3 linked regions of the Homo sapiens genome follow. The protein of the gene in region 3 purifies or fractionates together with the protein of the main gene of each other region. This does not show direct contact. Each region holds a gene or a part of one and is shown on either strand. Other genes may lie near its edges.

Evidence for each region.
Region 1: the proteins of C1D (region 3) and WDR3 purify together in Homo sapiens (co-immunoprecipitation; one large-scale study listed by IntAct). This does not show direct contact.
Region 2: the proteins of C1D (region 3) and WDR43 purify together in Homo sapiens (affinity purification with mass spectrometry; 2 studies listed by BioGRID and IntAct, with this or other methods). This does not show direct contact.

What each region holds. Positions count from the first base shown.
Region 1 is NC_000001.11:117,936,091-117,939,745, forward strand, and holds part of WDR3 (WD repeat-containing protein 3), read left to right. Parts: intron 1-678; coding exon 679-797; intron 798-2,389; coding exon 2,390-2,468; intron 2,469-3,386; coding exon 3,387-3,482; intron 3,483-3,655. UniProt on the Homo sapiens protein: Part of the small subunit (SSU) processome, first precursor of the small eukaryotic ribosomal subunit.
Region 2 is NC_000002.12:28,901,103-28,904,757, forward strand, and holds part of WDR43 (WD repeat-containing protein 43), read left to right. Parts: intron 1-884; coding exon 885-1,022; intron 1,023-3,655. UniProt on the Homo sapiens protein: Ribosome biogenesis factor that coordinates hyperactive transcription and ribogenesis. Part of the small subunit (SSU) processome, first precursor of the small eukaryotic ribosomal subunit.
Region 3 is NC_000002.12:68,049,427-68,053,081, forward strand, and holds part of C1D (nuclear nucleic acid-binding protein C1D), read right to left. Parts: exon of another isoform or gene 3,635-3,655; intron 1-3,634. UniProt on the Homo sapiens protein: Plays a role in the recruitment of the RNA exosome complex to pre-rRNA to mediate the 3'-5' end processing of the 5.8S rRNA; this function may include MPHOSPH6.

The sequences.
Region 1 (3,655 bases), on a different chromosome or scaffold from region 3:
TTATGATATTTGTAGTAGTTTTTGAGAAAACTAATAATAGAGTTAAATGAATGGGGAACAGGCCTTGTCATACATATCCCTGCTGGTTCTATAGATTTACCCAACCTGGAGATCATTTTGATAGTATGAATCCAAAACTTTAAAAATAAACATATCATATAACCCAAGAGCTTTTCATTTTAGTTTTTTCTAATCAGAGATACATACAGAAATTTGTATATAAGAATGTTCACTTCTGCATATTTATAACAGCAGAAGGTTGGAAACTAAATGTCTGAAACAGAAAAATTTTTAAATAAGTTGTGCTATTACTTTAGAATTGATTATTATGTGAGCATTAAAAATGTGAACACTCTGGAATAACATGGAAGAAATGGAAATAATATTAAATGAATAAAGAAAAGGTTGTAAAATGATATGAATGGCATGATTTTAGTCTTCTAATAGGAAAATAACCTGGATTATACATAAAGACTAGAGCAATAACAATGTCTGGGGATTATTTCTGGTTGGTGAGAATAAGGCTGGTGTTTATTCCCCTGTACTTTCCCCATGCTTTCCAAATTTTCTGTAAGGACTGTGTATTGCCTTTTTAATAATTAAGTCTCATTGTTTGTCAAGTTGGGCCATATATGGTAAAGAAAATTATTTTTCATCTGTATTATTTGATCCCTTTAGGACACAGATATTATTGTATGGGATGTGATCAATGAAAGTGGTCTGTACCGTCTAAAGGGGCACAAGGATGCCATCACACAAGCATTGTTTCTACGAGAAAAGAACCTGCTAGTTACTAGGTAAAGAAATAATGGTTTAATTTCCAGTTATTTTCTAGGAAGAGAGAATTTGCTTTATTCCTTACTCATTTCTCTCATGAGCAGTGTGCTCATGCTTATGCATTAGTTTTCTCTCCTGTTCTCCTGCATTCCTTCTTTCCATTTCTTCTAAGTAGTATCGTAGAGCTATCCAAAGCTATATTATTTTTAAAATCATTTTTCTAATTTGTCATTCTTTTTTCTTGATATCAGTTTTTCTGTGTTTCTTAGCCTTTTGAAACTCATTATAGAATGAGCTTTGTCTACCTTCTAGATCTCTAGAAAGCCAGGAATCAGAATATGGAGCAGAGGGAAGATATGAATACCAGGTGTTAAATTCGGCTTGCCTTTTGAGGAGAGATGTACTGTACTTCATAGGCCTTCTGAACACCTATTAGGATGAACCATTTGAAATTTTTATTTGTGTACATAAAAAATCATCAAATATCAACAATTTTATATTGTTCAACCTAATATAATAATGAATATTCCTAAAGAATGGCCACCTAGGAAAAGCTGGGATACCAAGGTTTGCCAGGCATTAATTAGAGGAACCATAGTAATGACTCAGAAAAAGCTGTGAGCACTAAATGCTTTACCAATGGTGGATTTGTTTCTGTGGGATAGGATACAGGTAAATTAGTGTCTTGTTCAGATAACACAGGTTCTGTAAGAGAATGATTCTATAGTTCTAATAGAAAAAATATATATTACAGCTTAGGGAATATAAAGGCAAAGAAATAACACTGTAAGGTGGGGTTATATGGGACGGACTTTGTAAATCAGGTTTTTGAGCGGTGTTTTTTTCCAGTTTGCTCATGAAGGAGGATTATATTAGATTTATGTAGTGAGGAGGTAGGGAAGAGGTGTTTGAGCAGGAGTAGTAGAGGCCATTGGCTGCGAGAGGTTATATTTAGGGGGTTAAGAACAAATAAATAGGAAATTTTGAGACTGCTGCCAATGAGCCTGACTTTGATTCTACAGGGAACATTGAGCTAGTGCAAATATTAAAAATTAAGGTTATCTGACAGTTGCACATTGGATGGGATGAGAGAACAGCAATGGACAAAGAGACCAAATGAGAAGCTGTTAAAATAATCCAGGTAGTAGGACTTAAGTTCAGGTTAGTGTACAGAAATGGACTAGAGGAGTTAATACTTAGAAACTTCACAGAGGAGGCATTTTCAGGACAAGAGACTAACTGGACAGGAAGACAAGGGAGTGGGAGCGGTCTAAGATGTTTCCATGGTAGACTGTCTGAGGGGAATGCCAGTGCTGTGATGATGGAAATGATAGGAGGAAGGCCTGATGGATCAAATTCTGTATTCTTTGGTACTCTGCATCTAAAGTCATTCTTGTGCTTATAGGTGGAACATTTTATTTTCTGCACAGGAATAACTACAAGGAAAGTTAGGATTCTTTGCTTTTCAAAAGTAAGATCAGAGAGAATCGGAGCTTTAGACATTATTGAAGCATATGTTCCTTTTAAAGCAACAGTGAGTTTTGGATCTCCCTATTCGTTGAATGAGTTTTCCTAAACAGGCTATATATTTTTTTCCTGTTTCTTCTTTTAGTGGGAAAGATACCATGGTGAAATGGTGGGACCTTGATACTCAGCACTGCTTTAAAACAATGGTTGGCCACCGGACTGAGGTAAGTGTAGGGTCATGGGCCCAGGGAAATAATGGGAAGGCAAAAGGGAAAAGGTGGTGGTCTTCTCTTCCCCTTTCATGGCTCTTTGTTTTTAGTGCACACAGTAATTATCATATGCCATCTTGAGGGACAGTGAGGCTGGTATGATGGAAGCAATGCCAGCCATTGGAGCAGATACTGCTGCTCTGACATGTAGTAAAAATTGGCCTTGCGTGGTTTTTAATTCCTGAGTTTCATCATTTCTAAATAATAAGTGTCCACTTTTATGAATGTAGGGAAGTTTAATGATATTATATGTGCAGCACCTAGCTTATTGACAGGTAAGCAGCACGTGGTAGCTGTTAAAATAGTTACTTGAACAGAGATCTATTCAGTTGAGTTCAGGGACTGTTTTTTATATATCTTTGCATCCTCAGTGCTTTATTCATATCAGGCATTCAGGAAGGTAATACCTAGAATTAATGACAAGAAGATTAAATTCTTTGTTGATTTGCAACAATATTATTTTCATTATTTAATTCCCGGATACTTGAAGCTGAAAGTTATGCAATGGACATTAGTGGGGCACCTTTTATTTGCTAGACACTGCTAAAAGCAAAGAAATAGAAGACTTAAAATCATCATTTGAGTGGATTCTAGTTAAGATTTATGCTGAACAGCCATTATCTTAATTTGATTATACGAGGTTAGAGACAAACTGCTAGTATCACAAAAGTAACAATTTCACCGCAGGCCATTTTTTTCTCTGTAAAAGTGAGACTTCTCTTAGTGCATTTTGAAAGGGTTGTCGATATGCCTTTTCTTTGCCTTTAAATTGCTAGACATTTTACTACGGTGTAACAGACTTTTGGAATGTCATATTATGCTACCTGGAATCTCTTGAAAATCGTATTACTCAAATCTTTTTATATTCTATAGGTATGGGGGTTGGTTCTGTTGTCAGAAGAAAAGCGACTCATCACTGGGGCCTCAGACAGTGAACTGAGGGTATGGGACATAGCTTATCTGCAAGAGGTAATTACTTCTTAAAATCATGGGCAATATGTTTAGAAGTTTCATAAGCACCTTGGATTTAGAATCAGATGTAATTATTCAGTACTTCACATCATATTAGAAGGAATTCTATCACACCAATAACCTGCAACACTTAAAAAAGCTTTTCTTCCTTATATGCTCATTATCCTTAT
Region 2 (3,655 bases), about 39 Mb from region 3:
TTTCTATGGTATTGGCTTGTTTTACAGTGAAAGAATGGATTTCTCAGAACTTTATGCTAAAAACATATAGGCTGGTGAGCCGTAATTTAAAAAAACACGGAAGAGAAGTTCTGAAATCATAATAAATACTCAGCATTATAAACTGATGTAGTGCTTTTAAGTTAGGGTCATTGTCTTTTTGTTGGGAAGACATGAGCTGTTAACATCACTTTTGAAATGAAAGAAGTCTTGTGGCATTTGCCACTTGAGTGAGACTTTTGTCTCTGAAGTCACTGAATCACTGAGCCAGCCCTTGACCAGTCAGTGGGGCAACTTCTCTCTTGTGTGCTCTGAGCTGCTCTACTAGTTAAAGCTATTTGTTGACTCAAATTGAAGTTAATGCACGTTTATAAAGGTAAAAACTTTTGAGGCTCTTTTCTTGACAACTAAGCTAGAATTTGTGGAAAAATTAGGAGAGATAAAGGAGAGTTGGCTGCTTAGATATGGACTTACGGATTCATAGATTTTTGGGTATGAATCTCTTTGGTTGGGGAGTGAAGGCTTCGCTTAGGTTGGACCTGTCAGGAGGGGCGGCCTGTTTCTGAGAAGTGGAAACAGCATTGAGGCTTCTTGGACCTGTTAGGAGAGTACCAAGAACATACTAGGTTTTCCTATTTGCTGCCTTTTTTCCATAGGGGTGGGAGACGGGGGACATAGAATTACGAGTTTCTCTTCCCATTGGAGGGATTTCTTTTTGAAGTAGTGAGAAGTAAATCACCCAATAGCTTCTCTCTTCCCCCCTTTTAAAATGTCTTTTGTGGGCTGGTGGGCATTTGTATTTGTTCATTAACGATGTTTTAGTATTTGCAATACTAAATAAAAACATTGTTTTTCTTTTTTTCCAGGAAAGTCCCCAGAGGAAAAAAAGGAAATCAGAAGCTGTAGGAATGAGTAACCAGACTGACTTATTGGCTCTTGGCACAGCAGTTGGTAGCATTTTATTATACAGCACAGTAAAAGGAGAGTTACACAGTAAATTAATAGTAAGTGTGTGTATATTTTATTTAAAAGTGATGTGACAGGGAAGCTGATTATTAGAGATTATTAAAAAAAAAACACTTCAAGGTATGTGATGGGATCTGTGCAGTAGGGACAGTTTTCAGTCTCATCTACGTTTAAATAACTGAATAGTAATATTTGATAAAAGCTATAATAGTTAACAGCAGTCCTTATTATGGGTCAGAGTATGAAGACTTATTGACTAGGTTTAAAATAAGGAAGGGTTACAGGAACTCTAAGGAATCATAGATAGCAGCTGTGGAAAGCAGCTCCCCACCTCTTGACCTAGGGGAATAAAGGAGGCAGTTGAAATTACTGCTAACACTGAGATCTTTTAGGGGCAAGTGTTGTGCTGCTGTTGCTGTCTCTTGAAGAGTGGCCCCATGGGCATGGGATCGAGACTTCAAACTGAGAAGGAGGCTCCAGCTGCCTGGTGCTAGTGTCTCTGATGGAGATGATGAGATTGGTTCTCCTAGGGTTGGATAAATTGGATATTGGGTTCAGCTGCTGCTGTTGGGCATTACCACTGTTGGGGTGATGCAAATAAAGAGACAGGAAGGAACAAGTCCCTTCTCTCTCCATCCTTGTCTCCCTCTAGCAGTTGCTATTGGTAGAACCTATGGATCGAGCTGGGAAATCAGAAATCAGGTTGCTGAGTCCCAGCATCACAGCAGAATATAAAGGATGGTTTGGCATTGGAAGACAGTAACCGAACTGGTCTAGTAGGTTCAGACAATATCTATTGCAGTGTGTTTTTGTTCGCTGGACTTCTGTATATAGGAGTGTTTTAAGTTTTTTGTTTTAAATAACATTTGTCTATAGGAAATTTGTAACTACATAAAGTTGAAAAGGAAAAAAATTTATACCTAAGTCTGTCGCCGAGAGGTCCTCTTAATAATTTGTATATTTCTTTGCTTTATACATACATTAAAAAAATATAGTTGGCTTTCTGTTCATCTAGTTTGTATCCTGATTTTTTTCATTAGATTACAACATAACTATCTTATATTTGTCAATAACTGGTTATAGAGATTTTTAGTGACTGCTTAAAATCCCAACAAGTGGGATAGTCCATTATGTTACTTAACTTGTTGACCATTTAGGGGTTTCCAGATTTTTAAATTGTTGTAAAACAATTTCTTTTTCTTACATGGATTCACAGAATTACTAACCTAAAATTAGTGAGCCAAAGGGTTGCTATATATGTAGTATAAAAATACTTTCTGGAATAATTTTTACTAATTTATGCTTAATATCAGTGATAGGAGATAAGTACTTTATCTCAGCAGTATCATTACCACTACTGAATAGCCCAACAAAACAGCAACAACGACAACAAAGAAACAGCTAATTTGGTAGAGGAATATTTTAATCTGATTTTAAGTTTGCATTTAGGAATGTATTACTTGTTTTTATATTAAGATTACAAAAATAATACTCAACTATAAATGAATTTTAAAGCATTCAGAGATCCATCTCAAGAAAGCATTCTTCCCTATATTCTTCCCCCCTCCTCCAAGTCGAGTGTGGTCCTCAGGTGAGCTCTTACACCTACTATAGGTAGGAGCCTATCCTTTAATTGGATAGGTTTTTTGTGTTCAGCAGGTACCTAGCATCTTGTGCAGTGTGATAGCTGCTCAGCTGCTGTGGCTGCTGGAGCCTAGAAGACTTATTTTTTTTTAAAGACAGAGTCTCACTCTGTCGCCCAGGCTAGAGTGCAGTAGTGCGGTCTCAGCTCACTGCAACCTCTGCCTCCTGGGTTCAAGTGATTTTCGTGCCTCAGCCTCCTGAGTAGCTGGGATTACAGACGTGCACCACCATAGCTGGCTCATTTTTGTATTTTTAGTAGAGATGGGGTTTTGTCATGTTGGCCATGCTGGTGTCGAACTCCTGGCCTCGTGTGATCTGCCTGCTTGGCCTCCTAAAGTGCTGGGGTTACAGGCATGAGCCACCATACCCAGCCTAGAACTCCTTTTTATATCATTTCACAACCTTACAAGATTGTAAATACATCTTCGACAGGGATGAATTTATCAAAAAGGAGTCAAGAGGGTCAGGGTGAGGGGTACTGGGATGGTATGGTAAGGTGGAAAAGGACCAGGCTTTGGAGCTAGTCTGTCCTGAGGTTGAATCCTACTAGTTGTATGATCATGTGTGAATAATTTAACTTCTCATCCCTTAAATGGGTATTAACAGCCTACCTTGCATGATTTTATTAAGACTTAAATGTAATAATGTATTGAAAGTGCCTGGCTTGTAAGTGGTATTTAGTAAATATTTGTTGAATGAGTAAGTGAACAAGTGAGTGAACACATCGCTAAATTGCTTTCCAAAAGGGTATGCTAGTTTACACTGCTGCTGGCAATAGTATTATGTAACCTCACCAGCATGGGCATCATAAGGCTAAACACATTGCTACAGGAACAGACTAAAAATGCCACTTTGTTTTGGTTTGTATTTCTTTGATTACTAACAAGGTTGAATATTTTGGTATATTTTCTAACTGAATTCTTTCTGTGGAATGTATCTGTTCATATCCTTTAGTTACTTGCGTGTATATAAGACTTAGTTCTTGGAGTACACAGCTGATAGGAAGGAAGGAAAGTAACTGAATGTA
Region 3 (3,655 bases):
CTCACTTTATGTAGAATTTTGAACCAATAAATTTGAAAATGTAAATGAAAACAATGATGTTCTTGGGAAGATATCAACTACCAAAACTAAAAAGAAGTACATAAACCATACAGATCATTAACCACAGAAAAAGAATTACACAGTAGTCAAAGACCTACCCTACAAAGAGGTTCTAGTCCTAGATTTTACAGGTAATTTCTTTCAAACCTTCAAGAAACAGTTAACTCCTATGGTATTTAGCTGTTTAAGAATACAGAGAAAGATGGAAAACCTTTTTCATAACATACACAAAAATAAACTCCAAATGAATTAAAAATGTAAACGTATAAACATATTAGATTATATCAAATATTTACATCATCTAAATGAAACCCAAATGCTATAGGAAATGGCTGACAAACTTAACTGCATAAAAACATTTTTGAAAAGTCGTACATGGTAAAAGGATACCATAAGCAAAGTTAAAAGGCAAGAGACAGCCAGGAGAAAGTATCTGACAAAATATCACAAAGAATTAGATAGACTAAATAAACAGTTCCTAGAAAGCAGTAAAACAAATTAAAATAATGAAGATATCATCACCTATCAGATTGGCAATAATTTTAAAGATTAAGAATGTTCAGTGTTAGAAAGGGTATACACTGAAAGTGGAATATAAATTGGTACAGGTTTTTAAAATGCACATACCCTTTGACTCAGGAAATCCTTTTAAGAATCTAGCCTATAAAAATCCTTGCACATGTGCTTATAAATTAAAATGTCCTCCTCAAACTTGTCTCTAAACTTACTCCAGTTTGTCATGTATCAAACTGTCCGTCTGCTGGACTATTACCCATAAGTTTAAATGTTTTATTTCTCCATCTAAGAAAGAAACAAAAAAAAAAAAAATTTCTTGACTTCATATCACCCCCCAGCTAAGGCCCCATTTTCTCTCTTTTACAACAAACTCCTCAAAAGAGATGCTTATACTAACAGTCTCTAATTCCTTTCCTTCCATCCTTTCTCAAATCTCCTACAAACATACCTTACTTTTCTCTCAAAATTGCACTTGGCAAGGTCACCCACACTACCACATGGTTAAATTCAATGGTCAATTCTCAGTTCTCCTTGAGTGACACTGTTGACTGCCTTCTCTTGGTTTTCTCCGTTTCCTTTCTATCTCACTGGCTCCTTTCTTGGTCTCTTCGATGCATCCTTCTCACATCCTCAGCCCCTTAACCAAGTTTGAAGTGCCCAGAGGCTGTTCCTGACTCTCTTCTCTAATTTACTCCCAGGTAAACTGAGGGTTTTAAATTGCTTTAGTAAACTGAAGACTCCAACATTTGTTTCTCCAAACCTGACCTCTCCATTGAACTTCATATTTACATTTCCAGCTGCATACTCAATATCTCTGGTTGGATGTCTAATAAATTCTCAAACAGAACGTGCCCAAAGCCAAATTCCTAACCTTGCCTACTGCAGTTTTCATCATTTCATTTCACGGCAACTTCAACTTTCCAATTGTTCAGTCCCAAAATTTCAGAGTGATCCTTGACTACTCTCTCTCACTTCATCTTTAATACACACCCAGAATCTAGCCATGTCCTACCACCTCTACTGCTACTATCCTGGTCCAAACCACCAAACCACTATCCTGGTCCAAACCATGCCTGAATGCCCTCCTAAATAGCCTTCTTGCTTCTGGCCAAAGTCTATTATCAAGAATACAGAGAGACCATTCAAAATGTAAATAAGATTATGCCATGCTTCTGCTCAGAAACTTCCAAAGGCTTGCCACCTCATTCGACATAAGACAAAAATCCTTACAGTGGGCCCGGCCTGGTGGCTCATGCCTGTAAATCCAGCACTTTGGGAGGCCAAGGCAGGAGGACAGCTTGAGCCCAGGAGTTCGAGACCAACCTGGGCAACATGGCAAGACCCCATATCTATAATTAAAATACATATTTATAGGCTGGGTGCAGTGGCTTATGCCTGTAATCCAAGCACTCTGGGAGGTCAAGATGGAAGGACTGTTTGAGCCTAGGAGTTCAAGACCAACTTGGGCAACACAGCAAGACCCCAACTCTATTTTTAAAATCAAAAAATAATAACTATTTATCTTTTAAAAATCCTTACAGTGGGTTCAAAAAGCTCAACACAATCTGCCCTGACTGCCCGTCACCTTCTGTGACTTCATCTCCCACTCTCCCTTGCTTATTTCATTCCAGCCACATTGTTCTTCCCCCACGACATCAGGCACATGCCTACCTCCCTTTGGGCTTCTCTCCTTCCTAGAATACTCTATTCCTCTCTTCCTCCCTTACCAATACCTTCAGAGCTCATTATGTTACCTTCACCAGATCTCCACTCAAATGTCATCTATTGGTATCTCACTCTTAACCACCCCATTTTAAAATGCACACCCCTCCCCCACACTCCCTATCTCCTCCCCAACCTTACATTCCTCAATATCAACTAACATATATTTATTTGTTGCCGGTCTACTGCCAAAAGGCAACTGCATGGGAGCAGGAATTTTTGTGATCCGTTCACAAGCACTGCCTGACAGTCAATACATTTGTTGAAATAAACTATAACAAAATATTGGAAATAATCTAGATATTCATCGACAGGGAAACAGTTAAATGAATTACACCATATTCATCCTTGAGAATATTACATGTCTTCTAAAAATAAAGAAGTAAATCTATATATAGTGACACACAATGAGAAGGAAAAAGTCAGAGAACAGAGAACATTGTATATAACACATAATGTGCCTAATATATGCCATTTGGTTTTTAAAAAAAAATTGTATATACATACATGTAGAAAAAGGTCTGGAAAGAACATACAAAAAATAGACATTTTCTCTGAAAAGAGACAAGGATTAGGGAATAGGTTCAAAGCAGACTCATTTTTTTAACTCTTCATTCTTCATTGTTTACATTTCAAAAAGCACATATTAAATTTTTAATAAAAAACAAATAAAGGCACTTAATAAAGTATTTTGGCTCTTAACAAATACTGTATGTATTTTTAAAAAACAAAAAAAGGTCTTTATTTAAATGTGAATTTTTTCATCAAATTTTCCTACGAGAAAATATTTCCTTTCTTCAGAAGAACATAGTAGAGATTTTTCCTGCAATTATTCCCTGTCCCTAAGCCCCAATAAACAAGCAGTTATTTATTGTTAGAACAGGTTAGGGTGAACACTGAAAGCATGGTAGTAAGTAAGAATAACTGCCCTCATTAAATCTGAACTGAGCCACTTGCCTTTTCCCTAACTAAAAAAATAAAGACAAGGGGGACTAAAAAATAAAGGCTCTTCTATTATGAGAAATTCCTCCTAATTCAATTGATTTCTACTAACACTTTATTATAGGCAGCTGCTGAGTATTTATTCCTTCCACAGAAAAAGCGCAGAAATTTCCCTCTGTCCCCTTAGCTACTCTGACCCCAGGATCAAGCAGTGACTCTACGATATCAGCAGCAAACTCTTGAATAGCACTGATTATGTGCCAGGCACTACTCTAAGCATTCCACATGCACTTGTTCATCTAAACCTCACAGATGAATAAACTGAGCCAAAAGAAGTTAAAGAACATGCCTAAAGTTGTACATGTTAAAATTTCCAAAGAAGAAAAGAACTCACCCAGCTCTGCTCCTCACCCTC